Regions from separate parts of the Homo sapiens genome. Here regions 1, 2 and 3 are each linked to region 4. Evidence: fine-mapped expression QTL. A gene starts in region 4. Each other region holds a variant in brackets. All regions are shown on one strand. Distances are between the middles of the regions. Region 1 holds the start of LENEP (lens epithelial protein). Region 2 overlaps ARHGEF2 (Rho/Rac guanine nucleotide exchange factor 2). Region 3 holds the start of EFNA1 (ephrin A1). Region 4 holds the start of ENTREP3 (endosomal transmembrane epsin interactor 3).

Region 1 (8,071 bases), 260 kb before region 4:
CTACAAAAAAAATTTAAAATGAGCTGAATGTGGTGGCACGCGCCTGTAGTCCCAGCTACTCGGAAGGCTGGGGTGGCCCTTGAAGCCAGGAGGTTGAGGCTGCAGTGAACTGTGACTGAGCCACTATACTCCAGCCTGGGTGACAGAGACCCAGCTTTAAAACCAAACAAATGGATTTTCCCACTCTTGTGTCCAGTCCAGGCCCCTCAGCAGCCTGAGGTGGTGTCCTTCAAAGAGCAGAGCACTGCATCATCAGGTGGATGCAGCCATCATCTTCAACCCCTCCCCTTCATCCCTACAGTACTGATGGCCTCATCTTCCCCTTCAACCCCCAGGGACACACTCAGGACACCAACACCTTCTTTCTGTGCCGGACACTGCGCTCCCTAGGGGTCCAGGTTTGCCGAGTCTCAGTTGTACCTGATGAGGTAGCCACCATTGCAGCTGAGGTCACTTCTTTCTCCAACCGCTTCACCCATGTCCTCACAGCAGGGGGCATCGGCCCCACTCATGATGATGTGACCTTTGAGGCAGTGGCACAGGCCTTTGGAGATGAGCTGAAGCCACACCCCAAGTTGGAAGCAGCCACCAAAGCCCTAGGAGGGGAAGGCTGGGAGAAGCTATCATTGGTGCCCTCCTCTGCCCGCCTGCATTATGGCACAGATCCTTGCACTGGTCAACCTTTCAGATTCCCTCTGGTCTCCGTCCGAAACGTCTACCTCTTCCCAGGCATTCCAGAGCTGCTGCGGCGGGTGCTGGAGGGGATGAAGGGACTATTCCAAAACCCAGCTGTTCAGTTCCACTCAAAGGAGCTATATGTGGCTGCTGATGAAGCCTCCATCGCCCCCATTCTGGCTGAGGCCCAGGCCCACTTTGGACGTAGGCTTGGCCTGGGTTCCTACCCTGACTGGGGCAGCAACTACTATCAGGTGAAGCTGACTCTAGACTCAGAGGAAGAAGGACCCCTGGAGGAATGCTTGGCCTACCTGACTGCCCGTTTGCCCCAGGGATCGCTGGTCCCCTACATGCCCAACGCTGTGGAGCAGGCCAGTGAGGCTGTATACAAACTCGCTGAATCAGGTAGGGACCTTATGGAGGAGGGGCATTATGCCCAAAGCCATTGGTGGCACCCCAGATCTCAGTAATGCAGGGGCTGTTGGGTGCTTCCTGCAAATCCCTGAGAGGGCAGAAGATAGCTTCTGTTAATTCATTATTCTTCCAATAAATGTTGATTGAGTACCTATTTTCATCAGCACTGTGCTAGGTGTTGGGGATATGGCTCAATAGGATAATGTATGCCCTGCTCTTATGGACCAGTGTTTTAACAAAAAAAGATGGACATTAAACAGGTGATCCTGCATGGGGTGATGAAAGGAGTGATCTCCCACAGCAGGGAGATCAGCCTTGATCTGGGGTCAGAGAAGGCCAAATGACATAAACTGAGTGATAAGGAGGATTTGATCAGTTCAGTAGGTGGGCAAGAGCCAACAGTATGAATGAGGGCCTGCAAGGAAGCAGCATGGGGTTAGGGAATGGAAGGAAGCCCACACCCCACACCCCCTGCTACAGAGGAATGACACTGAGGCTACTGTGAGGTGTGGCTGGGTGGCAGATGGCAGGGCAGGTCAGGGGCAGACTGCAGGGCCTAGCGGGCAGCATGAAGGAGTTTGGACTTTATCCTCAGAACACTGGGAAGATATTGAAGGGTTTAAGCAAGGGCAGCATGCCTTCACTCCCCTTTGATAGCCATATGTGTCCATCTGATGCCCTCTTCCCTGCCTGCTTGGCAGGGTCTTCTTTGGGGAAAAAGGTGGCAGGTGCCCTACAGACCATTGAGACCTCCCTGGCTCAGTACAGCCTCACCCAGCTCTGTGTGGGCTTCAACGGGGGCAAAGACTGCACTGCCCTCCTGCACCTCTTCCATGCAGCTGTGCAGAGGTGAGCCTGCCCCCGGGAGACAAGACCCCTGATCTGTTTCTCCAGTTCCACATCCCAGAAAGCAAGGAGAAAGGGGGTGTACAGGTGGAGTTCAAGAGGGAGATAGTCATGGTGACCTCTCAGTTCCATTCTCCCACCATATTGAGTATATGATATGTGCCTGGCCTTGTGTATGGATGTGCAGGCCACTATCCCTGACGACAGGGAGGTCACAGTCCTGCTGGGGAGATGAGAGATTTACATACCTGAACCAGGGATGCGTGCTTAGATTTGAGAGGTGAAAGGTCAGAGTGGGCTTCCCAGAGGAAGTGGGTCTAATGGATGGAAAGGACAAGGAAAAGGGAGAAGGGGTGAGAGTCTGTCCTAGGGGCCAACGAGAACAGTGAGCTGTTTCAGGGGAGCCATTTCCTTGTCCATGCTCACAAGCCTGTGGATTCTTCCCCCTCTGCAGGAAATTACCTGATGTTCCAAACCCCCTCCAGATCCTGTATATCCGCAGCATCTCCCCTTTCCCTGAGCTGGAACAGTTTCTACAGGACACTATCAAGAGGTACTAGGGGCCTGGAGGTTTGGGCTCCAAGAGAAGCTTGACAGAGCCCACGCCCGACCCCTACTTCTGTTTCTTCCTAAGGTATAATCTGCAGATGTTGGAAGCTGAGGGCAGCATGAAGCAGGCCCTGGGTGAACTGCAGGCACGGCACCCCCAGCTGGAGGCTGTCCTTATGGGCACCCGCCGGACTGACCCCTACTCCTGTAGCCTCTGCCCTTTCAGCCCCACTGACCCAGGCTGGCCCGCATTCATGCGCATCAACCCACTGCTGGTAATGGGGAAGAGGGTTTATCACCTTCAGTCTCACGTGCCCCAGCAGTCACTGCACCCTAGCTCACCTGCAGTAGTGGGGAGGCTAGAGCCTGGAACCTGGATGAAGGGGCCTCATCATCCAAGGGAGGCAGTGCTATCTGTTCATTCATCCTTTTGACCAATATTTATTGAGCCCAAATTCAATAGCAGGCATTGCACTTCCTACTGTGGATAGAATAGTGACTTAGACTTGTGCTGTCCAATATAGCCATTAATTATTTATTTATACTTAAATTTTAATTAATTAGAATGAAATACATATGACTAAAAACCACTGAATTATATACTTTAAAAGGATGAATTTGATGGTATGTGGATACCTCAATTTTTAAAATTAAGTACAATTAAAAATTCAGTTCTGGCTGGGCGCAGTGGCTCACGCCTGTAATCCCAGCACTTTGGGAGGCCATGGTGGGCAGATCACTTGAGGCCAGGAGTTCGAGACCAGCCTGGCCAACATGGCGAAACCCTGTCTCTACTAAAAATACAAAAAATTAGCCAGGCGTGGTGGCCTGTAGTCCTAGTTACTCGAGAGGCTGAGGCAGGAGAATTGCTTGAACCCAGGAGACGGAGGTTGCAGTGAGCTGAGATGGCACCACTGTACTCCAGCCTGGGCAACAGAACAAGACTCTGTCTCAAAAAAAAAAAAAAAAAAA[AT/A]ATATATATATATATGTATATATATATATACACACACACATACACAGGCCGGGCGTAGTGGCTTACACCTGTAATCCCTGCACTTTGGGAGGCTGAGGCAGGTGGATCGCCTGAGGTCAGGAGATCGAGACCAGCCTAACCAAAATGATGAAACCCAGTCTCTACTAAAAATACAAAAATTAGCGGAGCGTGGTGGCAGGCACCTGTAATCCCAACTACTCAGGAGGCTGAGGTAGGAGAATCACTTGAACCCAGGAGGCAGAGGTTGCAGTGAGCCAAGATGGCACCACTATACTCCAGCCTGAGCAACAGAGTGAGACTCCGTCCAAACAAACAAAAAAAAAATACAGTTATTCAGTTGTACTAGCCACATTTCAAATGACCACCATATTAGACAGTAGAGATACAGAACATTTCCATCATCACAGGAAGTTCTGGCCAGGCACAGTGGCTCACACCTGTAACCCCAGCACTCTGGGAGGCCGAGGTGGGCTGATCAATGCCTGTAGTCCCAGCTACTCAGGCTGAGGCGGGAAGATCGCTTGAGCCAGGGAAGTCGAGGCTGTAGTGAGCCATGATCATGCCAGTGCACTCCAGCCTGGGCAACAGTAAAGGCCCTGTCTAAAAAAAATAGGGCTGGGCACGGTGGCACACGCCTGTAATCCCAGCACTTTGGGAGGCCGAGGCAGGCACATCACGAGGTCAGGATTTCAAGACCAGCCTGACCAACATGGTGAAACCCCATCTCTACTAAAAAAATACAAAAATTAGCCGGCTGTGGTGGCGCATGCCTGTAATCCCAGCTACTCAGGAGGCTGAGGCAGGAGAATTGCTTAAATCTGGGAAGCGGAGGTTGCAGTGAGCCAAGATCGCGCCACTGCACTCCAGCCTGGGTGACAGAGCAAGACTCCGTCTCAAAAAAAAAAAAAAAAATAGGGCCGGGCATGGTGGCACACGCCTGTAATCCCAGCACTTTGGGAGGCCGTGGCGGGCGGATCATGAAGTCAGGAGATGGAGACCATCCTGGCTACACAGTGAAATCCCGTCTCTACTAAAAATACAAAAAATTAGCTGGGCACAGTGGTGGGCGCCTGTAGTGCCAGCTACTCGGGAGGCTGAGGCAGGAGAATGGCATGAACCCGGGAGGCAGAGGTTGCAGTGAGCCAAGACCACGCCACTGCACTCCAGCCTGGGCGACAGAGCCAGACTCCGTCTCAAAAAAAAAATAGACGGTTTCTCCCTGTCCTCAAGCTCCACCCTTGCACTAGAGGGTGGTTCAAGAATGGAAAGCAGAGAGTGGAGAAGATGAAGTCCTTCTCTTTCTCTTTGCATACATAGAGCAAGCTATACCAGAGAATCAGATAGCAAGCCCTCCCTCAGAGGCCAAGGGAGCAGAAGAGCCATGGATGGGCCCCTTCCCAGGACAGCAGGGGTAGAAGTGGGAAAGGTGAGCATTTGTGACTATTCTATTACTCTGACCTCCCAGGACTGGACCTACAGAGACATCTGGGATTTTCTGCGTCAGCTGTTTGTCCCATACTGTATCCTGTATGACCGAGGGTAAGGGTATTAGGGGAAGGGAATGGGTAAGGGAGTTTTTAGGGTGCTGGGATAGGGAGGGCCAATAGGATCGCCCACCCTACCACATGCTTGCCCTCCACCCTCCCTGCTCCAGATACACATCACTGGGGAGTCGGGAGAATACCGTGCGGAACCCGGCCCTGAAGTGCCTGAGCCCAGGAGGACACCCCACATACCGTCCAGCCTATCTACTGGAGAACGAAGAAGAGGAGCGGAACTCCCGCACATGACCTCCCACCCTAGGAGGGAGGGAAGGACACCGTCCTAGGGTATAACCTGGCAATAAACCGTGCCTCTCACTGTGCCTGTTGCTCTAGCTGTGTCTTCCTGCTCCAGAGGATGGGAGAAGCAGAAGTGGGTCAAATGCTGCCAGCTCTGACTGGCTGTGCTCACTCTAAGGGGCCCAGGGGCAGGGCAGAACAGGCTGGAAAGGAGCTCTCACTGATGGTTCTCAATGTCAGCCTCAGCAGGAGCCCACCAGAGGGCGAAAGCAGGAGTTGTGCCAACCACTGGGAAAAGGGCAATCAGGCAGGGCACCACCTGGGCTGGAAGAGGGGAAGCTGCCTTGGCCTAGCTGTGGAGGATGAAAGATGGAGTGGCCAGGCCCTCCCTCCCACTAACCCCACCCTCCCATCCCTGTCTAGAGGGGCTGACTCAGCCTGTTCCCAGGCCTAGAACCTTCCCTTTGCTAGACCCTGGATCCTTTGTCTCTGTAGTCATGAGGCTGAAGGGGGTGGGGACAGTGTTGATAAAAGGCACTAGAGGCAGCTCCCACACCCTTCCTCGGAACTGTTGCCCACATGCAGCCCCGGACACAGCCCCTAGCCCAAACCCTACCCTTCTTCCTCGGAGGGGCCCCTCGAGACACTGGGCTGCGGGTGCCTGTCATTAAGATGGGCACAGGGTGGGAGGGCTTCCAGCGGACCCTGAAGGAAGTCGCCTACATCCTCCTCTGCTGCTGGTGTATCAAGGAACTGCTGGATTAATGGTAGCAGGGAACTGCCTCCTCTCCCCACCAGCACCATGGCTGGCATCGCTCAGGTGGGCAGGGTAGAGTAAACAGGAGGCATAGCTGCAGCTTCTGTGGCAGAGCTTGCCTTAGCTTCTCATTCTCTTCTTTAGCCCCCAGCCCAATTGCCATCAAGACTCCTGAAGCCAGCTGTGCTTGACCAAGGATGGGCCATAAACAATGAGTAAACAGTAAAGTGTGGATCCTGCTTTGAGCTGTGTCATCTAGCAGACCTGCCTCATCTCTGAGCCTCCTTCATTCCCAACCCCTGCCTCTGGTGGACCTCTGGTGGGCAGGAGCTTGGACTGCTCTGGCTAGGACCCCAGTAAGATTGTGGCAAGACCTGGCACTCCTCCAAGCTTGGCACAGTGAGCCCACCAGCTCAGATGGTTGATCTTACCATACCCTCATAGTACCAAGAATGGACTGCCCCCTAAGAAACCTGTTTGAGAATCACTGAATTATAAATATAATCCATAGGCCTTGAGGCCCAAGATTATAAGTGTCTAAAGGGGAATCAGAAAAAGTCAGCACTAGAACGGTCTGGGAGCAAGGGTGCAGACCAGGGAGGGAAGGAGCTTGTCCTGAATAGAACCAAGATTGAAAGCCAGGTTTTCTGACTCACTGGTTCCTGAGTGGGGAGGGTGGAAGACAGTTCAGGTTCCTCTCAATCTGTGGGTAAGGAGGGGACCCAGCTTGAGTAGGGTCTTCATCTGTGAGGCCAAGGGTGTGTGGAAACCCAGAGGACCCAGCCCTTTCCCAAATAGAAGACCTGGTCCAGGCAGCTTCCTGCCTCTGAGGATCTTGGGGAAAGCACTGCGCTGAGGCTAGTCCCCAGCTCATCAAGGAAGTAGGACCCCATGAGCTACAAGAGCTCCCAGCTCACATACAAAGTTACCAGAGAAAGACACCTGTGTGGCCACACAGGTCCCTCAGGCTTATCATGACACAGCCCTATCAGGACATAAACAGCTAGATTGAGCAGAATTGGCTCTTTACTTCCTCTTGGTAGCCACAGCTGGTATTTTCCATGAGTTACTCCCGGTGGTAGATATACACCAGCCATGTGTATCGTCTTGCTCAGGGGGTGCTTATGCTTACTGATCTGCCCACCCACAGCCCCCCAAACCTCAGAGCCAGCCTGTTTGGGACTGTTCAGTATTTCCCTGGGATTCCCATCCAGCATTCTCTGGCCCCTCCTGGGGGGCCAGTTATCATCCCCCAGCCCTTTGTCACTTGGGGCACTGGCCTGGAGATTATAGATAGTGCCCTCTTCCTCCCTGCCTGGGACCAGCTCTTCCTCAGCCTTCTTCTTAGTTAACTCTTTTTTTTTTCTAGATTCTTTTTGTAAAGGTGATATATGCCCAGAGTAAAGAACTTTAGGCCAGGCCAGGTACAGTGGCTCACACCTGTAATCCCAGCACTTTGGGAGGCAGAGGCGGGCAGATCACCTGAGGTCAGGAGTTCTAGACCAGCCTGGCCAACATGGTGAAACTGCATCTCTACTAAAAATAATTAGCTGGGCGAGGTGGTGAGTGCCTGTAATCCCAGCTACTTGGGAGGCTGAGACAGGAGAATCACTTGAACCCGGGAGGCAGAGTTTGCGGTGAGCTGAGATCATGCCACTGCGCTCCAGCCTGGGGGACAAGAATGAAACTCTGTCTCAAAAAAAAAAAAAAAAAAAAAGGCCGGGCGCGGTGGCTCACATCTGTAATCCCAGCACTTTGGGACAAGGCCGAGGTGGGTGGATCACTTGAGGTCAGGAGTTCGAGACCAGCCTGGCCAGCATGGTGAAACCCCATCTCTACTAAAAATACAAAAAAATTAGCTGGACGTGGTGGCACATGCCTGTAGTCCCAGCTACCTGGGAGGCTGAGGCAGGAGAATGGCTTGAACCCAGGAGGTGGAGGTTGCAGTGAGCCAAGATTGCACCATTGCACTCCAGCCTGGGTGACACAGCAAGACTTCGTCTTATAAAAAAAAAAAAAAAAAAAAAAGAACTCTAATAGTTAAAAGTCTCCACG
Region 2 (8,079 bases), 710 kb after region 4:
AACTTCTGGGCTCAAGCGATCCTCCTGTCTCAGCCTCCCAAGTAGCTGGGACTATAGGCACATGCCACCACACCTGACTAGTTTTTTAAAATATTTTTTAAAGACGGCTGGGCACGGTGGCTCACGCCTATAATCCCAGCACTTTGGGAGGCCGAGGCGGGTGCATCACCTGAGGTCAGGTGTTCGAGACCAGCTTGGCCAACATGATGAAACCCTGTCTCTACTAAAAATGCAAAAATTAGCCGGGTGTAGTTGTAGGCGCCTGTAATCCCAGCTACTTGGGAGGCTGAGGCAGGAGAATTGCTTGAACCTGGGAGGCGGAGGTTGCAGTGAGCCGAGATAGCGCCAGTGCACTCCAGCATGGGCGACAGAGCAAGACTCTGCTTCAAAAAAAAAAAAAAAAAAAAAAAATATATATATATATATATATATATATATATACATATATATATATATATATTTTTTTTTTAGAGACAGAGGTCTTGCTTTGTTGCCTAGGTTGGTCTCAAAATCCTGGCGTCAAGTGATCCTCCCACCTCGGCCTCCCAAATCGCTGAGATTATAGGCATGAGCCACCACGCCCAGTTCCATTTTTTATCTTTACACCTTATCATCTCAAGCTGTGAGCTATTTTAGGGTAAGAACCATATGTCTTCTACATGTCGAGGCTTCCCACAGTCTCCAGCACGGTGTTAAGCGTGGAACAAGCACAGAGTAAAGACTGAAGACAGAGATAAAGAAGGGATAAAGAGAGGGTGTTGGAGACCAACAGCATCAAGAGGTAGGGACCTAGTGGGCAACCTGTGGGATACCAGGCAGGGTCTTGTAGGCCAAGAGGGAAAGGGTTTTGAGAGGTAGGGGCTGGTAGAAAGAAGGACACAGCCGGGTACGGTGGCTCACGCCTGTAATCCCAGCACTTTGGGAGGCTGAGGCGGGCAGATCACCTGAGGTCAGGAGTTTGAAACCAGCCTGGCTAACATGGTGAAACCCCGTCTCTACTAAAAATGCAAAACTTAGCCAGCATGGTGGCAGGCGCCTGTAATGAGAATCGCTTGAACCTGGGAGGTGGAGGCTGCAGTGAGCCGAGATCATGCCACTGCACTTCAGCCTGGTTGAGAGAGTGAGACTCCATCTCAAAAAAAAAAAAAAAAAGAAAAAGAAAAATAAAGAAGGAAGTAGATAAACAGGACCTGGTGAAGGAAGAGGAAGACTAGGGTGGTCTTGGCTTACCATAGATGACATCTTGCTGCTTCATCACCTCCTTTTTATGCTGCTGCAGGAAGCTGCTGTCCACAGCAAGACTCCAAGAGTCAGCTGCAAAGTCCTTCTCATCCATCTCAAAGTCACTCATCAGCTCACTGTAGATTACCTCTGCTGGACATTAGCAGGGCAAGCAACTCAGAGGTCTTGAGTTCCCTTCCCTGGGTCCCTGGCCCTTCTCTAGATCCCTTCCCTCCTTGTCCTTCCAGGCTACTCCCACCAGCCTCTCATCCCCCAGCCCCTCTTCATGTTCCTCAGGGCTCCCCTGGGCCCAGGCCTGCTCACCTTCGTCAATGAGGGATTCCACGGATAGGGTTCGGTTCCGCATGTTGAGGGAGTCTGTGGACTGTGAGAGGATCCGGCGCAGCCCCAGGGGAGACTCATCATTGAAATGTCTGAAGAAAGTGGAGGCTGTCTGCATCACCCCCAGTCGGGCAAAAGATCCCTTCCCAGGTAGGGAACCAAAGCCAGGATCCAAGAGGCGGTCCCCCTAAGTTCTCCTTATTTGTCTGTCTACAGTTCTGAACTCAGGGATGGAAAGGGACCTCTCAGCACCCCCTTGGCCTCCACTGCCACACTCTCTGGCTGCCCCTTTCCCCAAACAGAGGCTCACCCAGCAATGTTGGTGGTAGAAACACTCTTGGCTAAAGACAAGGAGGAGCGGCCACGGCGGGAGCCCAGGAGGGACTGCCGGAAGCTGTCGGAGGGGTAGATGGCCGAGCTTGGCCGCTCCCGGATGGTTGCTGTGGGGGAGAGATGCCCAGCAGGCAAACATCAGACTCTGGTGCTTCCCAGGATTGAGGCCTCCTAGGCTCCTCAATGAGGAATGAGGCATCCTCTCACTCCACCTCAGCCCCTCTAGTCAAGAAAGATGGTAATGAGAATGCCACCTTACATTTGTGCCATACTCTAATGTTCACAAAGAGCTTTTTCTTACTTATCTCCTCCCTGACATAAGCCTATAAACAAACAGGAGCTCAGAAAGACAAAAAGACTTGTCCAGGGTGACTTGGGTAATGGCTAGGCAGGGACTGAGGCTCTGCTCTTTATACCTAAGGGCCATGCTCTTTCTGTTACACCAAAGCTGTCTGAATTGACACTTGACAGCTGCTACCAACACTCCCGAAATGCAGTGTAAATAACTGATAAAAATGCAGGCTGCGGCCAGGCTCAGGCGACCACCCATCCCCAGCCCTCATCCCCATTCGGACTCTCTCTCCCCTTCTGCCTCTAAGTCCAAGAGTCCGAACCCTCCCTTAGGCCCCCACTATCTGCTTCCAATCAAGAAGAGGAAGGTGCTATGCCTGGGAACAACCTTAGTGGGGCAGCAGAGCCCATGGGTTGAGCAGCCTGGGGTCCAGGGTCTTAGGGGACCTCCTCCACTCCCCAACTACTCACTCTTACTTCGAAGAGAAACGGACTGCAAGGCGGTGTTGTTCTTCAGCAGGGCCGCTTTCTGTTGCTGTGAGACAGAGAGCAGGAGAGAGATACCAAGAATGGCTGTCACCCAAGGATCACCCCCAGAGGCATGGGACAGGAGCTAGGTGGCCGGCCCCCTTAGGAGAAAGCTGGCACTATGGTTAAGGGGATCAGGGTGATTGAGCCCAGTGCTGTGGGGACATGTCTGCAGCAACAGGCCTGGCCTACTTGGGGCCCGAGGCCTGGGGTTGAGGGTCTGGGCTGCCCCTTGGTGAGGAGGTGGGTGGTGAGAAACACAGGGTAGGGAATGAATGGAAAAGGCATGAGGGTACCGCACACTCACTACCCTCTCCCCCAGCCCTCTGCCCTCCCTGCCGTCTCACCTTCTGCTTGACCTTGGTACAGTTGGCGAGGGTGTCTTTACAGCGGTTGTGGATAGTCACATTGCAGGCTGGGAGGGTGGGGTAGAGAGGGTGAAGGGAGGGCCGGGTGGTACAGGAGGGGACACACCCACATGCAGACACCCATCTCCTCCTGGCCACACAGTCCTCGGGGACTCTCCCCCCTTCCCCGACTTCTGGGCCATTACCACACCCCAGTCCCTCTCCTCCCACCTCCCTCTTCCTTCAAGCAGGAAATGAAGTGAGGGGGGTATAGGTGCTGAATGAAATTAAACAATCAAGTGGGATGGGCAATCCTGACCCCAAGGTGGCCTGAAGGGCGGACCAGAGGGGAGCAGGGGTCACTGGCTGCCAGAGATGAGCTCAAGAAGCACGAAGGTGGTTGCGAATGGCAGATGGAAGAGAGGACTCCCACAGAACAGAAGATGGCACAGAGGCAGCCAGAATGGGGGCTAGGGGCAGAGGGGAAATTTACATTCCCTGAGCTTTTATAATAGTAAATGTTCCACATTTACTTAATCCTAACCACCCGTAGAGGGAGGTTCAGTTATCCTCATTTCATGTATGAGGAACCTGTCCTGGAGTGGCTAAATCGTCCATCAGAGGTCACACGGCTAGTGGGAGAGGTGGTGTTTACACTCCGGTGGGCCTGAATCCAAAGGCCGTGCTCCTTCCCTCGCACCACATGCCCTGGACTCTGGCTGGGCCTCAGCAGCTCCAAGGCTGATTGATGGCTCCAGTGGTAAAGAAGGGACAGGCAA[C/T]TCCCCACCAAGCCTGGCCTTCTCCCTTCCAGGCCCAGGGAGTCCTGTTCCCCCAACTCAGGCAAATCCACAGCTCCCACACTCCATCTGCTTCTCCGCCATCCTCCACCCCACCTTGCCATGGGGTAGGAGAGAAGAAGAAAGGAGGATTCGCTGAGCCTAGGCACTGGGACCCTGGCCGTGCCCTTCCCAGACATGCCCTCAGCTCCCGGCCCTCTCCAGCTTCCCCTCCCCCATCCAACAACACCGGAAACTCTGCTAACTCTTTCAGACAATACCCAGCACCACGCTCACTTCCACAAATACAAGGCAAACAGGGTGGAGCAGAGGGGGCAGACAGAAGTGGGGGTTGCAGCTGCCCCCACCCCCCTGGAGCTCCCTTCTCCTACCCCCAACACTCAGTGTCTCTGGATTGAACCTCCGCTTTCCACCTGCTCTCAAAATAGTGCTGCCCGCCTCCCCTGTTCCCCTGGCAACAAGCTTCCGGATTGGGAATTTTGTCAGGTCTCTATAGGGATCTAGATTGGGGTTCCCTCCTCATCCTCACAACTCTAAATTGAACAGTGAGGAAAGTAGGGAGGCTTCACTGGTTTTCTTTTCTTTCTTTTTTTTTTTTTTTTTGAGCGGTAGCAAGCTTTATTGTGAAGAGCAAAATGACAAAGCTCCCACAGCGTAGAAGGGGACCCGAGCGGGTTGCCCATCACTGGTCCTTTCTGGGGGTTCCTTCCCCAAGTTTCATAGGGATTTACAGGCTAGAGCTTTTGTCCGCTATTCAGTAGCAGGTCACAATACCTTCAATCCTGCTCTAATCAGAGGCATCTCTGCCATAACTTCAGGAGGAATTGAGGGAGAGGGGGCAGCAGGAGCCCTCTGTGTACTGGGGAAGGAAAGAATTCCTGGCTTATACTCCCTAAAGACAGGACTACACTCAGATGTGGATGAAGGGCAGGAATTCTAACCCCTGCCCCTCAACACACACATCCCTGCTACATTCCCTCTTTCTCACTAGAAATTTGAGATGAAGGGTCCTAATCACATCTTCTGCTTGAAACAGCAGAGATTTCAGGCTCCACCCATAGTCAATAGAAAGAAAGGGGCAAGGGGACTGTGAAGTCCTGAATGCCCAGCTCTGCGCAGGAAGACAGGCAGAGCCAGCTGCAAGGCTGGCAGCTTTCCACCCAGTTCCTCTGTCACCCCCCACCCCACCCCCTCCACACATACAACATTCCTGCTCCTTCTCCAATCAGTTCCCCTAACCCTTAGCAGCTGTTCGGGGAGCAAGGGGGGTGCCTGGTGGATGACAGCTGCAAGAGGAGCCAGCACAGCCTCCCCTCCCCCACATTCCCAGATAGTCCGGCTTATGCCATATTCCAACAGCCACCACCCCTCAGAGTGAGGACAGGGAGCAAGGGATCAAGCAACTGGCCCTGGCATTTGGGCCCAGCTGGGGATCAGAGAGAAGAGTGACCCTCATGGATCCAGGCAGAAAAAACAGATGAAAAGATCAGGGTCAGTGGGCACCGAGTCTGGGTGACTCTCAGGGTCCAAACAACTTACTTGGGCAGATGAGGGCTTCCTTGGCTGTGATGCTCTTGTTACAGGCATAGCACATGGTCATGCCTGAAACTGAAATGGTGGTGAAGAGGTGCCCATTGGTATAGCGGGCATCCTTGGCTTCCTTCATCTTCTCCTTTTCCCGGGTCTGTGGAAGGGATGAGAGGGAGAGGAAGTGAGGCTGGAAAATGCCAGGGTGCCTGGAGTCCAGAGAGACAGGCTGGGGGCAGAGGCAAGGAAAAAATGCCAGCCTGAGGATGCTGGAAAGACACCAGTTCCTAAAGCAGAGCCTGCAACTGGGTGTCAGAGGCAGCTGTCCGGGAGTGACCAGGCCAGGCTCTGGGGCAGCCAGCCCGGATGGGTTCTGGGTCCCTGACCTACCTGGCCCCTACGGCTGGGCTGCCTCCTGTTGCCACTCATCTCCCTGGCTCTAGGTCTCTGCGTCCTCACTCCACCTTCCCAGCCCTAGCTCTGCTCACCCCCGAGCTGCTGTACTCTCTTCTCTGTGCTAGGGGGAAGATGCGCAGAGAGGAGGGGAGAGCAGGCGAAGCGGAGGGTGCCAGCTCACCAGCGCTTTCCAATCTATGGGAGTTAGCTCCTCTTATAACCATGACAACCAGTGTTGGATCTGCTGTCTCTGTGGCAGTCACAGTGGGGGGGGCAGGAGATCCCCTTATTAGATTGGCTGAAGGGGGCAGAATGCCTCCCCTGCCACCCCCAACCCAGGGGTCAGGATCCCAGACCTCTAACTCTTTTCACCAACCCTCAGCCACGGCACACAGGGCCTGTCTGGGAGGCAGCATGTCCCCTACTAACCTTGAGGCAAAGGCAGCTAGCTGCCTTTGGGTCACTCTTCCACTCTGGGATCTTTAAGTAAGGAAGCTCAGCCAGCCATCTTGGTTGCTTCCAGCGGAAAATCTCTCCTGCAGTCTAACTTTTATCCCTCTCATACTACTTTCCAGAGTTAAAACCTAGGAGAGTTTCCTCTATTGCTCCTTACCCAACTGGTCTCTCCCATCCTAGGAAGTCCTTTCTGACATCTACCCTCCATCCTTCAGTGTTGATCTCCGCAGATGGCGCACACCTTCCTCGGAGCCTCTGAGCCGCATTTTCCATCTCTGCTGTCTCCCATTTCCCCCAGTGCCCCTGCCTCTGCAAGTCAAGTCATTCTCCCTGACCTCCAATCTGTCCCTCTTCAAGCCCCTGTGATTCCCAAAAAGCCTGAGAAGGTGAGAAGAGGGGGATATCACTCTTCCCACTATTCTAGGACCTTCCTTAGTTGTGACTCTGATCTCTGGATTTTCCCTCCGCTCTTGGAGCAGGACTAGAAGCTGAGAAGACCACTCCCTCCAAGGTTTCCCAGGCTCTCAGAAATCAAAAATCAGGATCCAGATGGCTGAGGGTAGAAGCCCCAAGTCAGAGGACCTGGACTGGGGACAGAGGATTACAGTTCAGCGGGAAGCACTCAGCCCGGACTCTAGGAGACCAGTACTGACTCAGCCGAGGCCACGAGGCCACGCCAGCAGCTGAGAGGTGGAGGAGGGGAAGAGATGCACGGGCCTGGTGCTTGGGGCAGAAAATGGTAGAAAGAAAGGGGAAGTGTGGAGGGGCTGAGTCAACAGTGCAGGGACAGAGGGCATGGGGCTGCAGTGCCTGGGCCCAAGATCCTTCTCTTTCCTGCCTCTCTTCCCAAGCTCCAGGTTTGCCTGATGATGTCCAGAGCCCAGAGGTCTTGGGGTCAATCCCTTCTCCCCTCATGCATCCTCCCCATCCCCAATCATCCATTTTTCGCATCCTCCTCCTGTCTCCTGCTCTCTCTATGTCCTCCCTTCTCTTCTCAGGGTCTCCCTCCTAGGCTCCTCCCGCTCTGCCTTCCCTTTCTCAGCCTTGCTTCTCCGCCACTGTTCTCCTCTCCCGCCCACAGCCTCTCCTCCCCTCCTCCTCACGCAGGCCAACTGCTCCTCTACCTAGGCTTATTCAGGAAGCTGAGCTGCCTCTAGCCTCTAACTCAAACCTCTAAAATGTTCTGGCCTCCTTTTTTCTATTCTGGCACCTACCTACCCGGACCACTAGAAAATGCTCCCTTTGGTCTAACCTCCACCTATCTTGCACCAAATTATACCTCTTTAGAAGTTCAAATTCAGGCTGGGTGCAGTGGCTCACACCTGCAATCCCAGCACTTTGGGAGGTCGAGGCGGGTGGATTACCTGAGGTCAGGAGTTCGAGACCAGCCTGACCAACATGGTGAAACCCCATCTCTACTAAAAATACAAAAAATTAGCTGGGCGTAGTGGCAGGCACCTGTAATCCCAGCTACTTGGGAGGCTGAGGCAGGAGAATTGCTTGAACCGGGGAGGTTGGAGGTTGTGGTGGGTTGAGATTGGGCCACTGCACTCCAGCCTGGGCCACAGAGTGAGACTATGTCTCAAAAAAAAAAAAAGAAGTTCAAATTCACCTTTGAATAATAACCTCACAGGACCTCAAACACCAAGTCCAAAAATCTCTTCCCACTGCCATATACTCTCCCTTTTCTCCTCCTCTCCTGCCCTCCCAGCCTTCTATATAACTCAAACCAAAAGTTTGAGCATGTATTACATTTGAATTAAAAGCAAGAGGCCGGTGAGGTGGCTCACACCTGTAATCCCAGCACTTTGCGGGGCTGAGGTGGGAGGATCGCTTGAGGC
Region 3 (8,000 bases), 130 kb before region 4:
ACGACAGAGATTGCTCTCAGCCCAGGTTCTGCTCCTCCCCCTGCTGCCTCACCCCATTGCCCAGAGATGACCCCTGGGGCTGAGCCAGGTTTCACTTGCCCCAGGGCCCTGCAGCTCTGGCCTTCCCCTCCCCAAACTGCAGGGCACCCAGCAAAGGAGTCGCAATCCAGTACCTGCACCTGTTCCCAACTGGAAATGCTGCCTCCAGGCAGCCAGGGCCTACCCCAAGACCTCAGAGGAATTTCCTCTGAGGAAATTCCTGCCCTCCCAGGAATTTCCAGAAAGGACTCATGGAGGAATTTCCTAGACATGCAGACAGGCAGACAGACAGACACCTCAGGCAGCTCTCGTCACTAAGCGCAGATGTTTGCCTGCGGGTGACGTGCTGGGAGCCAACACAAGCACACAATTTTGCGGCGAGAGGCAGCACGAAGCAAGAATGGAGAGCAGACCCACCCGGGCAGGCTGGGGGCTGGCATGAGGAAGGGACTGGGAGGGGGCCCCAGAGTTGGTCAGCAGATCGAGTCTCCAGGAACAGAAGTCCCTACTATTATCTCTGTCTGAATGGCACAGTGCCCTGCAACTCTCCTCTCAGCACAGCAGGCATTGCAGGGGCTCCAGGAAGGGTCAGGGTAGTGTGACTGTGAGTGGTAGGGCCGCAGTCTGGGCTTGAGCACTTAGCAAGTTTGCTGTCCTGGTGGCTTGTCAATATCCCCTACCGGCCTGGGGGCTCCCCAAGGTAGTGATTTTATCTTAAACCCATCCTTACACTCTCGGTGCCCATCGCAACACCCAGCTCATCACAACACTCAGTGTCTAGGGCTGCTCCAGTAGGGTGGATGATCGACCCCCATATGGATAGGGGAGTGGATAGAGAGTGATGGGATCAATGCCCTAAGTGAGATGAGAATACTGGGGACAGCACCAAAGCAGGGAAAGAGGGCTCCGGGTCCTGTCGGTGCGCAGAATTTCCATGCACGCTTCTGCACCCAGCTTGCTCCAGACCTAGACGCAGGCAAGAGCTGACGTGGCCCCGCCAGACTGGGCCCAGCGAGCCCGAACCTGCCTGGCCCAAGCAGCTGCAGCGTGGGACTTCACACGTCCCCGCCCAGTCCCAGTGGTCAGAGAAACCAGGGAATCCGGCCCAAAGCTGTCTCCTCCAGGAGGCAACCCGGGCCACCTGCTCTAAAGAGCTACCAGCATCCCTCCCCTCTTCAACCCCCCTGCTGGCTCCTTTTCAGAACAGTTATGTCCAGCAGAAGTTAAGTTCCTTCACTGAACAGTGAGTGATTTCACTCACTCCACAGATATTTACTGACCATCTACTGTATGTGCTAGATGCTGTGCCAGGTGCTGGCAGTAAGATAATGAACAAAACAAAAACCCATGTCCTCCTGGAGCTTTGACTCTATGGAATGCCCGAACTGGGAGGCAGTACTCTCGCCGGGGCCACGTGGGAGGTCGACACCCAGGTGTCCTCCTAGGTGAGCAAAAGGCGCGTGAGGTGCCGCCCTGGGAGCAGTCGGCGGGTGGACTTCGTCCTGGGCGAGAGGAGCGGGCCGCACCTCGGACAAACGCTTGGCTGGGCACGTCGCCTGGGGCAGGTGCCCGAGGGAGAGGGGGGTGGCGCTGGCCGTGCGCAAAACCCGGCCCTGACCCGGCCACGGGGTTAGAGGCCGTTGGTACTCTATGTTTATTGTAAACGCAGCGAATACGGCCTCCAGCGGCCTCAGCGCACGTGGTGGTGCAGTGGGGAGCCGGCTGGGCCCTCCCCAGCTCCAGGCTCCTCCCCGGCGGGGTCAGCGCCAGACTTGCTGCGGCGTCCGGGCCCCGCGTAATTACAGGGGCTGTAGCCAGGCCTGGCCGTAAAATAGGAGGATGAAACGGCCTGGGAACTGGAGAAGCTGGGCCGGAGCTGGCCAGGGGCCCCGGGTCCGTGGCTTCCCGCGATGCGCAGCCGCAGGGAAGGGCCGGCTGAGGATGCGCACACACACTCACAACACCAACCTGGCGCGCACACAGCCACACAACCACACACGTAAACCACCAAACGCACGCAGACACACAGCATTCGGCTCTCCCACTCCAGGCTCACTCGTGAGCCTAATCAAACACCTGCCCGCCCTCTCCACCCCAGGAGCTGACACCCGCCCGCCAAGCCCTCTCCAGACGGCAGCAGATCCAGGCGGGGAGAAGAGCCCCGAGAGGCAAATTCCAGTGGGTTTGTTTACACAGCGCGGGGGAGGGGGCCTGAGCCGGGTACTGGGGCCCGACTGACTGGGAGCCCCAGCTCAGACTGGGCCAGCTCCAGCTGTGCAGCCTGAGGACTGCGCACAAACGCCCCTCCGTTCCACCCCACCCCCGCTGCACGCCGGTACGCGTCTCCCCTCCTCTTCACACGCTGTTCACAAACATTAGCATACGTCTGTCAAAGAGTTTCACACGCTTCCACACACGCGGCTGTGATACTACTCACAAATGCTTTCATGCTAGCGCGCCATCACACGTATTTCATGTGTGGTTACAGTTTGTCACCCTTCATGCCCAGATTCTCACAGTCCATATTCAAGAGCCTGTTCGCACGGTGTACGCGTGTGTTGTTACATATACTCAGGTTATTAGCGCTCTTTGACTTATCTAAAATAAGAACGGCCCCCTCTCGAGCCCAGGGTCCCGCGTGTCGCTCCTGCGGGCAGGCACTGATGTGATGGACAGAGGCGTCCTTAGCCCCGGCCGCACACGTTACACACTCGATCACACAAAGCGTTGCACTTTATTCCCGGCATCTAGGCGATGACACAATCTCCAGAACAAAGACAACATTGACAAACCCAACAAAAACAAACAGCCGCGTGTGTGTGGGGAGGGGCAGTCAAGCGCAGAGTCCGGGAAGGGGATGGGGGAGGAGGAGAGTGTGGGAACGCGGGCGCCCGAGCCTGGGCATGCGAGGCTCAGAAAGGTGCGGGGCATGTCAACAACCTCGCACCCTGCAAGGTCCGCGCGCGGAGCAGCAAAGCCGTGTCCCGCACCCCCGCGTTCGCAGACTCGCACTTGCGAGTTCTTCCCTTCTCCCGCACGCGACTGCGCCCAGGGACGCAAGCCCACCACCGGGACAGGCTCACAAAGCTCCACGCAGACCCACAAGTGAGCGAACACACATCTCTGAGCAGATCTGCGGGGGCAGAGGAGCGCGCTTCGCTCTTTCCTGCACCCCCAGCCTCCTCGCCTCCCCACCCCGCCCCTCCTCCACCTCCCCAGCCCCCAAGCCCCCAGGCAGCCGCGCGCCGGGCGGGGCGAGGGCGGGGCGGGGTGTCGGGCGGCGCCGGCCCAAAAGGCGGAGTCGCTAGGCGAAGGGGCCAGATCTGTGAGCCCAGCGCTGACTGCGCCGCGGAGAAAGCCAGTGGGAACCCAGACCCATAGGAGACCCGCGTCCCCGCTCGGCCTGGCCAGGCCCCGCGCTATGGAGTTCCTCTGGGCCCCTCTCTTGGGTCTGTGCTGCAGTCTGGCCGCTGCTGATCGCCACACCGTCTTCTGGAACAGTTCAAATCCCAAGTAAGCCTCGAGACTCCCGCTGGCAGCCTGGGCTCCCGGCTGGCACTACCCCACCGGGATAACTGTCCCGGCCAAACCCTGAGCTGAGCCTAGAGTAGATGACCGAGGTAGGAGGGCGGCTGTAGATTTTCCTCCCCTCACTTCTCCGTCATATCTGGGAGCACCCCACCCCGGGGCATGCTTGTGTCTACTTGCATGGGCTTATATCTGCCCTTCCCTTCCTTCTCTCTGGCACCCCTATTACTCTAAAGTGAGGGACTCATGCTGGGCAGTTCCTGCCTTCAGCATAGACTTCGCCCCTGGCAGCCAGGGCCCTTGTTCCAGGCCCCCCACCCCCCCACTGTGAAAGCCTCCACGCCTCTCCTTGTGTGTCCTTTGGGTATCTGACCACACTGACAGATACCTGGTGTGACATCAAGAGTGCACAGAATGCTCAAGGTAACCCTGGAAGGACCTCTCAGGAGAGAGCTGGGCTGTAGGCATTCATTATGCATTCACCCTGTATTTAAAGCAAACCTGGAAAGTCCCTCACTAGGGGTCTTTTGGGGTGGCATGAGTGAGGCACATGCTGTGCATGGGTAGGCTGAGGGAATCA[C/T]CTGTTTATGGGGCTCTCAAGTAGTAAAAGCGAAGAGCTGGGAGAGGGAGATCATGGGAAAGCTTCAGAATGAACAGAAGAGGTTAAAGGGGTTACAGAAGGTTCTGGGCAGGAAGGAGTTAATTTCTCCTGGGCAGGTTTAGGGCTGTGAGGCAAATGGTACTGGGAGGAAGACTCTGTCGGCCCCTTTGTTCTTGCCCTTGAGTTTTCTGAAGTTATGGGAACAATATTTGAGGGAATACAGGAGAGGGTGGTAGGGAGGAGCAGGGAGAGAAGTGGGCAGCTTGGTATCACGAAAGCCATCTCACCGGCTTAGCCACTCTCGGCCCTAGCAAGCTTGCCCCCCACTCCCCTTGAGAAATATGTTGTGCCAGCTTCCTCTGACCCCGTGTCATCGTCTGGTGAGGCAGTCTGTTGTCTGTGGCTTGTTAGGGTGGGGGAGAGAACAGCCAGCTGCCAACCCCAGAGGGCAATGCCCTCCTGCCCATGGACGCTGGGGAGGCTCAGCCAGCCCTCCGCCACCCGCTCCCTGTGCTTTGCCTCCTTGACCTGATGCATCTCGCCCTAGTATGGGAGAGAGCAAAGTCCCTGTTTATGCCCATGCCAGGTGTTGACTGGAGGAGGAGGAGGGGACAGGAAGCCATGAGTAGGGAGGGGGGGACCCTGGCCTTTTCCGTTCCCAAGCTCCCAGGTTTCCTCTCTTTCAGGAAGGAGCCTCTTCCTTACCCACCTCCCCGCCTTCCCTGACGCCGCTGCCCCCCTTTCCCAGATGGGGAGCAAGAGTCAAATGAAGGCTAAGTACAGCAGACTGTACCCCCAGGAGAGGGGGCTGATGGGTGACCCTCTGGCCACACACACACACACACACACACACACACACACACGCACACCCTATCATACCCAGGACTAAAGAGACGCCAGTCCAGAGTAGAGTCCGTAGGCAGCCAAGCTGGGCCCAGCGTGGGGGCAAATATGAGGCTACAATGAACGGGGTAGGTGAGGCTGGCATGGGTGACTCAGGCCAGTGGGCAGCAGCCCTGGGATCTCCAGGCCTCAGGCGGGGGCAGCATGCTGAGAAGGGCGCCAGCCTCCCTCATGCTGGAGGGCAGGCCCCTCATTCTGACCTGCCAGCTCCCTTTGTTTGGAGGACACTGTTGGGGGTGAGTGGGCGCTGTGCCCTCCTGGGGTCCTGGGGGCTGTGCACATTTGACAAGGTAAGTTTTCACAAGTTCTCATGAGTGCTGGGGCGGGTAGCAGAGGTGGATGAGGAATGAGTCAGTGCCCGTCACGGGAATGAGGGAAAGACGCCAGGCCCAGAGCTGAAATACCTGTTCTGAAATGGCTTCTATGTTTATCTCTCCAGAGAGGAATTTTAAAAGCCTCTCTCTGCTCCTCTCTTTTCCCCAGGGTGGGGGAGGGGCCTGGTAAGCCCAGTTTGGGCGCTGGCACGCTGCTGCAAAGCCTGGCCTCTCAGGGGTCATGCTGATTGGGCAGTGGGTGCCCACCTCCGAGTCCTCTCTGCCTGACTCCTTCCTCGCCCTCCCAGCCGTGGCCAGGGCTTTCAGTTCGAAGCAACTTAGCGCTAATTCTGCTGGGTCTCTAGCTGGCAGTGCCTGGGGGAATTAGAGAAACTGACCAGCTTGCGGGGTCGGGGGAAGCACTTTTCCCCCTACTGGGACCCCACCCAGGCTGGAGCCAGGTGTCTGGAGCTGGTGGGGAGGGGCTGGTGGGCAGTCAGGCTGGAGCCGGTGGGGCCAGGGGGAATGAACTAGGGGAGGGGTGCTGGCTCCACCTTGGGAGGAGGGGAGAGGAGGGGAGAGGGGGAGAGGAGGAGAGAGGGGAGAGAGGGGAGAGGGGAGAGGCTGTCTCAAGCTCAAGCTCAGAGCTCCAGCATTTCATCTAGGGGGAGGTGGAAGTGTGGCTTTTAGAGATAAAAGGACAGGGTTGTTTTGGGGTGCTCTGAGAAGGGGAAAAGGAGACCAGTGTATAACTTTGAGTAGCTAGAACGGGAAGATTTGAGGGGGCTGAATGAATTGATGAGAGTGATTTAACTTAAAGGACTGGGGCATTATCTGTGGGCCCGGGTATACTAGCTTCACTTTTGAGGAAAAGTGAAGCTGGGAAATGTGAGATCTACTCAGTGGGTCCGGGGAAATGTGAGAGGAGTAAGGAAAGTGAAGACACAGATGTGTTGGAGGCTCCAGGCTAGCATGGTAAAGAGAAAGGGTTTCCTGGATTCTGATTACAGAATGGACCTGTGGGGGTCTCAGATTGAGGCCTAACAGCATTTAAAAGGAGCAACTGGTAGAACAGATTTGGGGAAATATTTATGGGTAGAAGAGAATGATAAGTGAGCTACAGAAATAGGTAGAAGCCCATCTAAATATCAGGTAAGTATCAGGGGGGTTATGGAAAATGCTTTGGTACCCGAAAGATACTGAGTGAATGCTATTTGAAGGACCAACAGGAGACAGTGATGGTGCAGGGGAATGTTTAGAGATGGCAGAGAGAAATGTAAGACATCAAGATCAGTACATATTGGGAGTTGAAACTTCGGAAAAATCTCTTGGGGTCCAGTGTGAAATGTGAGAGGTCATGTAAACATTCAGAGGCCCAAGGATCTGGCCTGGCTTCTGAATGACCACCTGCTTCTTCCCCCTGTGTGTGTCCCCAGGTTCCGGAATGAGGACTACACCATACATGTGCAGCTGAATGACTACGTGGACATCATCTGTCCGCACTATGAAGATCACTCTGTGGCAGACGCTGCCATGGAGCAGTACATACTGTACCTGGTGGAGCATGAGGAGTACCAGCTGTGCCAGCCCCAGTCCAAGGACCAAGTCCGCTGGCAGTGCAACCGGCCCAGTGCCAAGCATGGCCCGGAGAAGCTGTCTGAGAAGTTCCAGCGCTTCACACCTTTCACCCTGGGCAAGGAGTTCAAAGAAGGACACAGCTACTACTACATCTGTGAGTGCCTGTGAGGGGACAGTGTCTGTGTTTCTTTTTTGCCATTACATACATGCTTGGGTACATGCTTGGTGTAGAGTCCAGCAGCAGAGGGCCCCTTCCGATCTTGAATTCTATTTTCATTCATCTACATCCCAATGTGAGTGAGCTTCTACTATGTGCTGGGCACTCTGTTTAGCGCTATGAGCACAAAGATAAATAAAACACTACAGAGCCCCTGTCCTCAAGGAAGCTGGGAAGAAACACACATAGGTTAAGAGACCCTTAGAACAGTGTGCTACAGTAGACATGAACACAGGGGCCTTGGGAAAATGACCTGGGCACCTGCCAGGCTATGGGGCTCAGAGAAGGCTCAGTGGGGAAGATGGTCCCAGAGCTCAGGACAAGCAGAGGAGCTGGCCAGGCATGAAGGCACACGTACAAAGGGAGCATGACATCTTCAGGGAACTTCCTGTGGCTCAGCCTGGCTGGAGTTGGAGGGACACAGGAAGTGAGGAGATGTGAGCCTGGAGAGGTGGACAGAACAGACCATGGGGGAACTAAAAGGTGATAAGGAGTTTGGACTTTATCCTGAGGGCTCTCGCCACTGATGGGTTTTATTTTATTTTATTTTATTATTATTATTACTCTTGAGATGGAGTTTCACTCTTGTCGCCCAGGCTGGAGTGCAGTGGTGTGATCTCTGCTCACTGCAACCTCTACCTCTCGGATTCAAGCAATTCTCCTGCCTCAACCTCCCAAATAGCTGGGATTACAGGCACCTGCCACCACGCCCAGCTAATTTTGTATTTTTAGTAGAGATGGGGTTTCACCATGTTGGTCAGACTGGTCTCGAACTCCTGACCTCAAGTGATCTGCCCGCCTCAGCCTCCCAAAGTGCTGG
Region 4 (8,067 bases):
AGCACCAGCCTGGCCTGGCCTAGCCCTGCCCAGGCAGTTCCTCTTCTCCCAAGCCCAGCCTCTAGGGGCCACTGTGCCTCCAGCTTTATCTCAGAGGAGAAAAATAAGTCCAGGGTTCCAAGTTGCCACAGCCCTCCTATGTCCCCAAACCACCAACTCCGCCTTGTTTTCCCCTTCTATTGTCTCTACCCACCCCAGCTATCCCTGGCAGCCCCGCCCTTGTCCACCCCTCATTACGCCCTGCTCACCGTCTACAATGGAGGCCACTCGTTCACAGATGCACGAGCCATCGTGAAGCTGAGGGTCAAAGAGAGTGGCCTGCAGAAGACACAGGGTCAAGGGTTCAGCCCTACACACTGAACACCCCCATGTGCTAGACAGAGCTCTGGAGACTTAGATTCCAGACCAGCCTTGTCCCTTTGTACAAGTCACTTAATTGTGCAGCCTCAGCTTCCACGTCTGTATGGCAGAAATGATAGCTTCCAACCCACTCACCTCACCAGGCTCTAGGGAAGATCAAAGGCAACAGTGGGCATGCTGGTGCTGTAAAGACCTTGACCACTGTTACTATCTTTATCCAGAGGCTACAGCCTGTTCAGCTTTCCAGGCTACAACCCGGCTCCCCAGCCCGCCCCAAGCCGTGCTGTGCTCTCACCTGGCTGTCTCCTCGTAGTCCCATGACTGCCTCATAAGAAGGGGGGCAATCGGTAGGGTACAAGGGCACTGGGCTGTCCATGGAGCCATTGTACGTGATGCTGGCAGATGAGGAAGAGGGTCAATGTAGGAGAAATAATTCCCCCTCCACAAAGATCCCTCTCTCCAGCAATCCAGGCCCAGCCCCAGTCCCCTTCCTTAGCTCCCCCAGCAAGACCCCACCAGGCCTTACCTCTGTGCATCTGTTTCTGAGCTGCAGGTATACTCTGGGGGATAGTAGGGCGGTGGGGGCACAGGCGGGACAAATTCCTCCAGGTCCAGCATGGTGTGTAGGAGAGGGGCTGGGGGCGGGGACGTGCAGCCCAGAGGTCCCAGTGGGCCTGAGACTGACCGCTCAGGGGCCAGCTGCTGGGGAAGCGAGCAGGTCAGCAAGTCTGGATTCTGGGAATACAGCTCCTCCTGGGCCCCCAAACTCCTCTCTCATCTACATTATTTTTTCTGGCCCTATCCCCTGAGAGAAGCTCTTGTTCTGGCCCCTCCCTCACCCAAAATCAGCTCTCCTTAACCCCACGCTCACCCTGTACCTCTAGCTCTGGCCCTGCCCACCCACAAATTCCTCTTTATGGCCCCACCTCCATCCAGAAGCTCCACACATTCTGTGTCTTCACAGGAATGTCCACCCTTTAGCCTCACCTCCATCTAGGACCTTCTTTTTTTTTTTGAGACAGAGTCTGACTCTGTTGCTGGAGTGCAGTGGCGCGATCTCAGCTCACTGCAACCCCCACCTCCCAAGATCAAGCAATTCCCATGCCTCATCCTCCTGAGTAGCTGGAATTATAAGGGTGTGCAACCATGCCCAGCTAATTATTATTATTATTATTATTTCGAGACGAAGTTTCACTCTTGTCGCCCAGGCTGGAGTACAATGGCTACATCTCAGCTCACTGCAACCTCTGCCTCCCAGGTTCAAGCGATTCTCCAGCCTCAGTCTTCCGAGTAGCTGGGATTACAGGCACCCGCCACCACACCCGGATAATTTTTGTATTTTTAGTAGAGATAGGGTTTCGCCATGTTGGCCAGGCTGGTGTCAAACTCCTGATATCTGGTGATCCTCCTGCCTTGGCCTCCCAAAGTGCTGGGATTACAGGCATGAGCCACGGAGCCCAGCCTAATTTTTGTAATTTTGTGTGTATATATATATATATATATATATATATATATATTTTTTTTTTTTTTTTTTTTTTTTTTGAGACGGAGTCTTGCTCTTGTCGCCCAGGCTGGAATGCAGTGGCACCATCTCAGCTCACTGCAGCCTCTGTCTCCCCGGTTCAAGCAATTTTCCTGCCTCAGACTCCCAAGTAGCTGGGATTACAGGCACCCGCCACCACACTTGGCTAATTTTTGTATTTCGTTTGTTTGTTTTTTGAGATGGAGTCTTGCTCTGTCGCCCAGGCTGGAGTGCAGTGGCACTATCTCAGCTCACTGCAAGCTCTGCCTCCCAGGTTCATGCCATTCTCCTGCCTCAGCCTCCCGAGTAGCTGGGACCACAGGCGCCCGCCACCACGCCTGGCTAATTTTTTGTATGTTTAGTAGAGATGGGGTTTCACCATGTTAGCCAGGATAGTCTCGATCTCCTGATCTCAGGTGATCTGCCCTCCTCAGCCTCCCAAAGTGCTGGGATTATAGGCACGAGCCACTGCGCCCGGCCCGATTTTTGTATTTTTAATAGAGACAGGGTTTCGCCATGTTGGCCAGGTGGGTCTTGAACTCCTGGCCTCAGGTGATCCGCCTGCCTGGGCCTCTCAAAGTGCTGGGATTACAGGAATGAGCCACCGTGCCCAGCATAGGACCTTCTTGACTCTACCCCACCATCCAGTCCCATTCTCTAAAGCACCCTCTCCTGGTCCCAGACCAGCATCACATACTTAACTCACTCCCTGCCATCTCCCCTTCTCATCCTCCCCACTAAACATCCATTCCTCCAATAGATGAGGATAATAGATAACCCATAGCCCCTGGTGCTCAAAAGCCAGATCTGTAGCCATTGTTCCCTCAGGCAAGTCTCAGCACACACACCCCTGCCCCCACCATACCTGCGTGCCCTGGCCCCTGCTCCCTTCTCACCGTATGCACGAGGTCCAGGGAGAAGATTTGGATGCAGCAGACAATAGCAGAGAGTGTACAGATTATAGCGGCACAAATGGTGAGCCCACAGACGCTGAAGAGCAGGTTCTGGGGAAGGGAAAGGAGGAGAGGAGTCAGGAGACGGCTAAGTTCCACACATTATGGGCCTGTGAGTACCCCAGCAGGGGAGGCAAGAGTGAGAACCAGGAGGATGTTTGCAGGGTGCAAGCTCACCTTGAGGGCCCCTCGGGCTTCATCACAGGTGGAGTTAGGGGCAACTTTCAGTTCCTGCCCCGACTCTGGACAGGGCCGGAGGAGGGGAACAGAGGGACAGCACACACAGACCTTTCCTTCCTGAGTGGAGCAGGGAGGGTGAGGCAGCCTGAGTCAGGACAAACTGAGGTGTCCTGCACACCTCCCCCAGCCAGTTCTTTCCAGCTCTCCCTCCTCAAATCTCACCAGAGAGCACTGTTGGAAGTCTCGGGCCAGTTGAGCATTCTTACAGGAGAGAACAGAGCCAGCCATGCTAAGCATGACACAGAGCACCGAAAGCAAGGAGAAGAAGGAGATCTGGGGAAAACAGGGTGCAGACTCAGGGCTGGGACCCTCATGAGTACTCCTCTGCCACGGACAGAGTCCCCCTCCTTCACAGACACTTCGTGCCCACCCGGCTGGCACCAACTGGGGAGCCAGTTCCCTTCTTGAGGACATAAATGGGCTTCCCCTTGCGTGCTGGGCACCTGCCTCCCAGTGGGCACTGGACCCTGGCACCTACCACTAGAGTGAATGGCCGCTTCCAGGACACAATGCCAACCACCCCGGAGAACGCCAGCTGGGGACAGAGTGGGCACAGGCTCAGCCTGGCAGGGGAGGCTCCTGAGTGAGCCCCTCACCACAGGATGCACCCAGCCCTGTAAGGAGGCAGAGGACCAGGAGAGGGAGGAGAGGCAAGCATGTGGACTTGCAGCTGGTGTGGAGGGTGGGGCCCGAGGAGCCTCCCCCACCCAACAACTGTGCACCCAACTCACCGAGAACCCAGCCCAAGACGGGCAGGACCTCTTGATGCTCTCGGTGGTGGTGACGGAAGAGGCCACCATGCTGAAGGTGACCACCAGGATGCCCAGGAGCACTTGGACCAGCCCCAGCGTAAGCAGGGCCTGCAGCCAGGGTCGGTGGAGGCGGAGGTGGGTAAGGCCCCTGGTGCTGGGCCGGCTGGTCAGCGAGCGGCTGGAGTCACTAGGCGAGGGCATCATGCCTGCTGCCCGGTTGCCTGCGCCTCGCTCGGCCCTCCCTGGCACTTGGGAGCATCTCAGAGGCGCCCAAGGCCCCGTCCTTTCTCCTCTCCACCCCACTCGCTCTAGAGCCCACCCCCTGGCTGGGTCCCCTGGGGCATGGCCGAGGGACGCCAGCTGTGGGGGGGGCCAAGCGAGGGGCGTCACGGAGGGACCGCGGAGTGCTCCCTCCCCACCACGGGCACTGGACGGGCACCGTGCCCGGGGCGACGATGAGGACGCGGGGGCACCGGCTCATCGCATCTCCCTAGGGAAGAGGGGCACCGAGAAGGGCCGGTCCAGGAGTGAGGAGGGGGCGGCGGCCTGGAGCCCAGGGAGGGGTGGGGAGGGTAAAAGCGGGAAGGATGGAAATAAGTCTAGAGAAGAGGGGAGGGGTCGGCGTGGGGTGACTCTAGAGGCGCGGTCGGTGTGCCCTCAGGGCGTCCAGTAGGATCCGGGGCCGCCTGGTGGGGAGAGGCCGCGGCGCCGCTGTCTCCTGTGTCGCCTGTCCCGCTCCCCTCCCCACCACGCTCCGCTCCCCGAGCTCCGGCTGCCGCAGGTCGGGGACTAGAGAAGGGGGATGGGAATGGGGATGGTGCGGGAAGGAGGGGCATGGCGGCGAGGGCCGGCGCGGTGCACCCCGGGAGTTGTAGTTCGGGACTGAGACCCTGTCGGGGTTGGGGGATCCCGCGGCAGGGCGAGGCAGTCGGATAAGCGCTCCTCCAGTCCCTGCCTCGCTCTGGACCCTGGCTAGGCTGCTAGTGATCCTTTGGGCCTCCACTTGAGCCCCATCCAGCTTTTCAGGCTCCAGGCCCGCGTATTCCTTGGCGTTCCCGGCAGAGGCGGTGGCTCTTCCCCGTCATTAATGGAGAGGGGTGGGGAGCAGGGCTCCCTGGCGTCTCCGGGTTTCGCGTTTCCGTGGACTTCCCACCTCCTTCCTGCGCCAGCCACTCGGGCTCCACCGCCCCGCCCCTCATATCTCCCAGTTTACACTAAAGCCGGGTCCGACCTTCCCACCTCACTCCACACTCTCCTTTCTCTTTCATAAGGCCTAATTCCCAATGAAGATTCAGGAAACGGGGATGTCAGTTCCAGTTCCACTTTCTTTTTATTTAAATAACCGAAGCAACAGCCGTGGCACAGCAGAGGGAAGCTGGGTTGGGGCGTGTGAGAGGTGGCAGCAGTGTGGCCTGATGGGGGGACTAGGTCACAGTGAACTCCCCACACGCCTGTCAGGTTCAGCAGTCATGGCCATAGGATTGGGAGCACTACGGAGGAGCCATCAGTTAGTGATGTCTCTCCAAGTCCCAGAGACCTTAGGGACGGGAGCTAAGTCAGCTCCCTCAAGTAGCAGGGCCAGGGCATCCCAGTCAGGGGTCACGGGGCCCGGAAGGCATTTTCAGCAGCCCCAGCGGCTGCATTGGCAGCTGCGGTTCGCACCGCAGGGTTGGAGAAGACACCAGCAGCAAATTCTTGCTGGGCCTTCTGAAAGCTGGCACCTGTGCGGCGGTATAAGGAGTGGATCTGCAAGTAGAGGACAAAGACATTACCGCCCATTCCAGCCACTGGTTCCCCACCCCAGCCTAACAGCATCACTACCACTCAGCAGCCTGCTGCCCAGCACACACACTCACACACAGAAACACACACCCCAGAGGTCCATTAGCTGAGAACAACCCAGCAGCCTGACCTGTGCCAGTTGCTCCTGAATGTTCCACCCACGCCCCTGGGGACCCATGATCTCACCATCCCGGCCCCACCTTCGACACAGCCCTCACCCGTTTCAGCATGACAATTCCTAGCACAGCAATGCCAGTGAAGAGCAGGGCGACCAGCAGCATGAGCACGGATACTGCTGTGTTGCCCTTCGGCACCACCAGAGCAGAGATCCAGCCACTGTAAAGGGAAGGATGTACCAGTGAAGAGGGGCTCCTCAGCTTCTCCACTGGTTATGTCACCAGCATCCCCTGTTCCTACCCTTCCCATCAGCAGTGGCTCCCTGTCAATCGAGCAGCATTCCAAGCACCACAATCCCAAACTGTATCTAATCTCTTCATAGTTTAATTCCAGTTTCTGAACCATTAGCCCTGAGCTCTCCAAGCTCTTCCAGGCACTCATCTGGGGATTCTTCTTCCTCCTTTCAACCATGGTTCTATGCCTCCTCCAGGAAGCCACCTTAGATTGGCCAAATGCAGCATTCTTCCCTTCAATCTATATGTGTCAAGAGTGCTGTCTGCGCTCTATCCTGGAAGTATGTCTTGTATCTCATTAAACTAGTACCTCCCAAGGATTAAAACCACATTTCCTTTTTCTGAACAACTCCTATCCCAGCACCCAGTGCTGGCTGGATCTAGAGGGAAAGGTGAGGGTGGATAACAGCCTCACAAACCTGAATCCCCAACCTGGGATACCAATGGCCTGGAGGACAAAGAGCACATCCTGGACGAAGAAAATGAAGAAGAAAACGAAGAAATTGAATGAACTGTCACTCCTACAAAGAGGAAAAAAATGGGGAGGGTGGGAGAAGAATTAGAGCTGAAGGATGGGCAGACGTGGGGCCCATCCCAGGTCTCCATCACTCTCCCACCACTAACACACTTACCGGAAAGCCTTATACATGGGGCGGTACCAGCAGACAAAGGAGCAGGGAGTGAAAAGGAGGACCCAGAGGATAGAAAGCCCAAAGCCTGCGCCATTGTTGGTTTCCACACAGAAGCTGGCCAGGCAGGCGAGGAAGTTCAGGAGAAGAGCCAGCGTGCTGCCTAAGGGGCAGAGGGACAGGATGAGGAGCCCTTCTGGACTGCAATGAAGGCTCCTTCCCATCTATGCTCATCCTATAATATTCACCAAACATGGCAGAGTAAGGAAATGAAGGCAGCTGCTGCCTTCATGGAATCCTCAACAGGGGAGATGGAGAAAGCAAATGTCAATAATGTGTGATCCCCTTGCAAAGACATTTTTTTTTTTGAGACGGAGTCTGGCTCTGTCGCGCAGGCTGGAGTGCAGTGGCGCAATCTCAGCTTACTGCAAGCTCCGCCTCCCCGGTTCACGCCATTCTCCTGCCTCAGCCTCCAGAGTAGCTGGGACTACAGGCGCCCGCCACCACGCCCAGCTAATTTTTTTTTTTCTTTTTTTTTTTTTGAGATGGAATCTCGCTCTGTCGCCCAGGCTGGAGTGCAGTGGCAGGATCTCGGCTCACTGCAAGCTCTGCCTCCTGGGTTCACGCCCATTCTCCTACCTCAGCCTCCTAAGTAGCTGGGACTACAGGCACCCGCCACCACGCCCGGCTAATTTTTTGTATTTGTAGTAGAGACGGGGTTTCACCGTGTTAGCCAGGATGGTCTTGATCTCCTAACCTCATGTTCTGCCCACCTGGGCCTCCCAAAGTGCTGGGATTACAGGTGTGAGCCACCGTGCCCGGCCTTTTTTTTTTTTTTTTTTTTTTTTTTTTTTTTTTTGAGATGGAGTTTTGCTCTTGTTGCCCAGGCTGGAGTGCAATGGCATGATCTTGGCTCATTGCAACCTCCACTTCCCGGGTTCAAGTGATTCTCCTGCTTCAGCCTCCTGAGTAGCTAGGATTACAGGCATGTGCCACCACGCCCAGGTAATTTTGTATTTTTAGTAGAGATGGGGTTTCTCCATGTTGATCAGGCTAGTCTCAAACTTCTGACCTCAGGTTATCCACCCACCTCAGCTTCCCAAAGTGCTGGGATTACAGGCGTATACCACTGCACCCAGCCCAAAGACATCTAAAGAATTCAAAATATATTCCTGCATATGGACAATAAAAAGTGGGGAGAGGGCAAGAACATTTGCTAGCAGGCTGGTGAGTTCTAAATAGAGGTGAAGTGTTTGGTTCTTGGTGAGCGGACCCCAGGGCAGTTAAGAGATCTACCTGTAACTTCCTCCAAAAGGCTTCTCACTACTCACACATCCAGAGGTAGTACATGGTGGATACAGTCTTCTGAAATTCTTGGGGGATCTCCATGGAGATGTCCTGGAAAAAGCAGGGCTGAAC

Evidence for each region.
Region 1: its variant is fine-mapped to the expression of ENTREP3 in whole blood (INTERVAL, PIP above 0.99).
Region 2: its variant is fine-mapped to the expression of ENTREP3 in whole blood (TOPMed, PIP above 0.99).
Region 3: its variant is fine-mapped to the expression of ENTREP3 in whole blood (INTERVAL, PIP above 0.99).

Annotation. Positions count from the first base shown.
Region 1 is chr1:154,987,770-154,995,840 of GRCh38, forward strand. FLAD1 (flavin adenine dinucleotide synthetase 1) reads left to right here. Exons shown (of 7, transcript NM_025207.5): 2 at 336-1,080; 3 at 1,791-1,938; 4 at 2,390-2,488; 5 at 2,570-2,759; 6 at 4,944-5,017; 7 at 5,133-5,342. The coding sequence ends at 5,268. It overlaps LENEP (lens epithelial protein), which reads left to right and starts at 5,817. Exons shown (of 1, transcript NM_001394530.1): 1 at 5,817-6,546. The coding sequence starts at 5,839. The coding sequence ends at 6,024. The variant AT/A (reference allele first, on the strand shown) is at 3,457.
Region 2 is chr1:155,963,758-155,971,836 of GRCh38, forward strand. ARHGEF2 (Rho/Rac guanine nucleotide exchange factor 2) reads right to left here. Exons shown (of 22, transcript NM_001162383.2): 2 at 5,399-5,543; 3 at 3,063-3,130; 4 at 2,659-2,722; 5 at 1,874-2,003; 6 at 1,546-1,655; 7 at 1,231-1,374. Among named protein-coding and RNA genes, the nearest start is that of ARHGEF2, 11 kb to the right of the region's middle. RefSeq lists a silencer at 4,340-4,571 and enhancers at 6,689-6,788, 6,839-7,018, 7,029-7,078. The variant C/T (reference allele first, on the strand shown) is at 3,842.
Region 3 is chr1:155,124,518-155,132,517 of GRCh38, forward strand. EFNA1 (ephrin A1) reads left to right here and starts at 3,359. Exons shown (of 5, transcript NM_004428.3): 1 at 3,359-3,552; 2 at 6,822-7,117. The coding sequence starts at 3,461. RefSeq lists silencers at 176-470, 3,250-3,309 and enhancers at 374-1,213, 1,214-2,053. The variant C/T (reference allele first, on the strand shown) is at 4,148.
Region 4 is chr1:155,250,847-155,258,913 of GRCh38, forward strand. It overlaps ENTREP3 (endosomal transmembrane epsin interactor 3), which reads right to left and starts at 4,637. Exons shown (of 12, transcript NM_006589.3): 1 at 3,807-4,637; 2 at 3,554-3,610; 3 at 3,238-3,348; 4 at 3,013-3,132; 5 at 2,779-2,886; 6 at 887-1,059; 7 at 656-755; 8 at 249-318. The coding sequence starts at 4,031. It overlaps SCAMP3 (secretory carrier membrane protein 3), which reads right to left. Exons shown (of 9, transcript NM_005698.4): 5 at 7,980-8,067; 6 at 6,652-6,811; 7 at 6,439-6,540; 8 at 5,828-5,945; 9 at 5,135-5,573. The coding sequence ends at 5,427.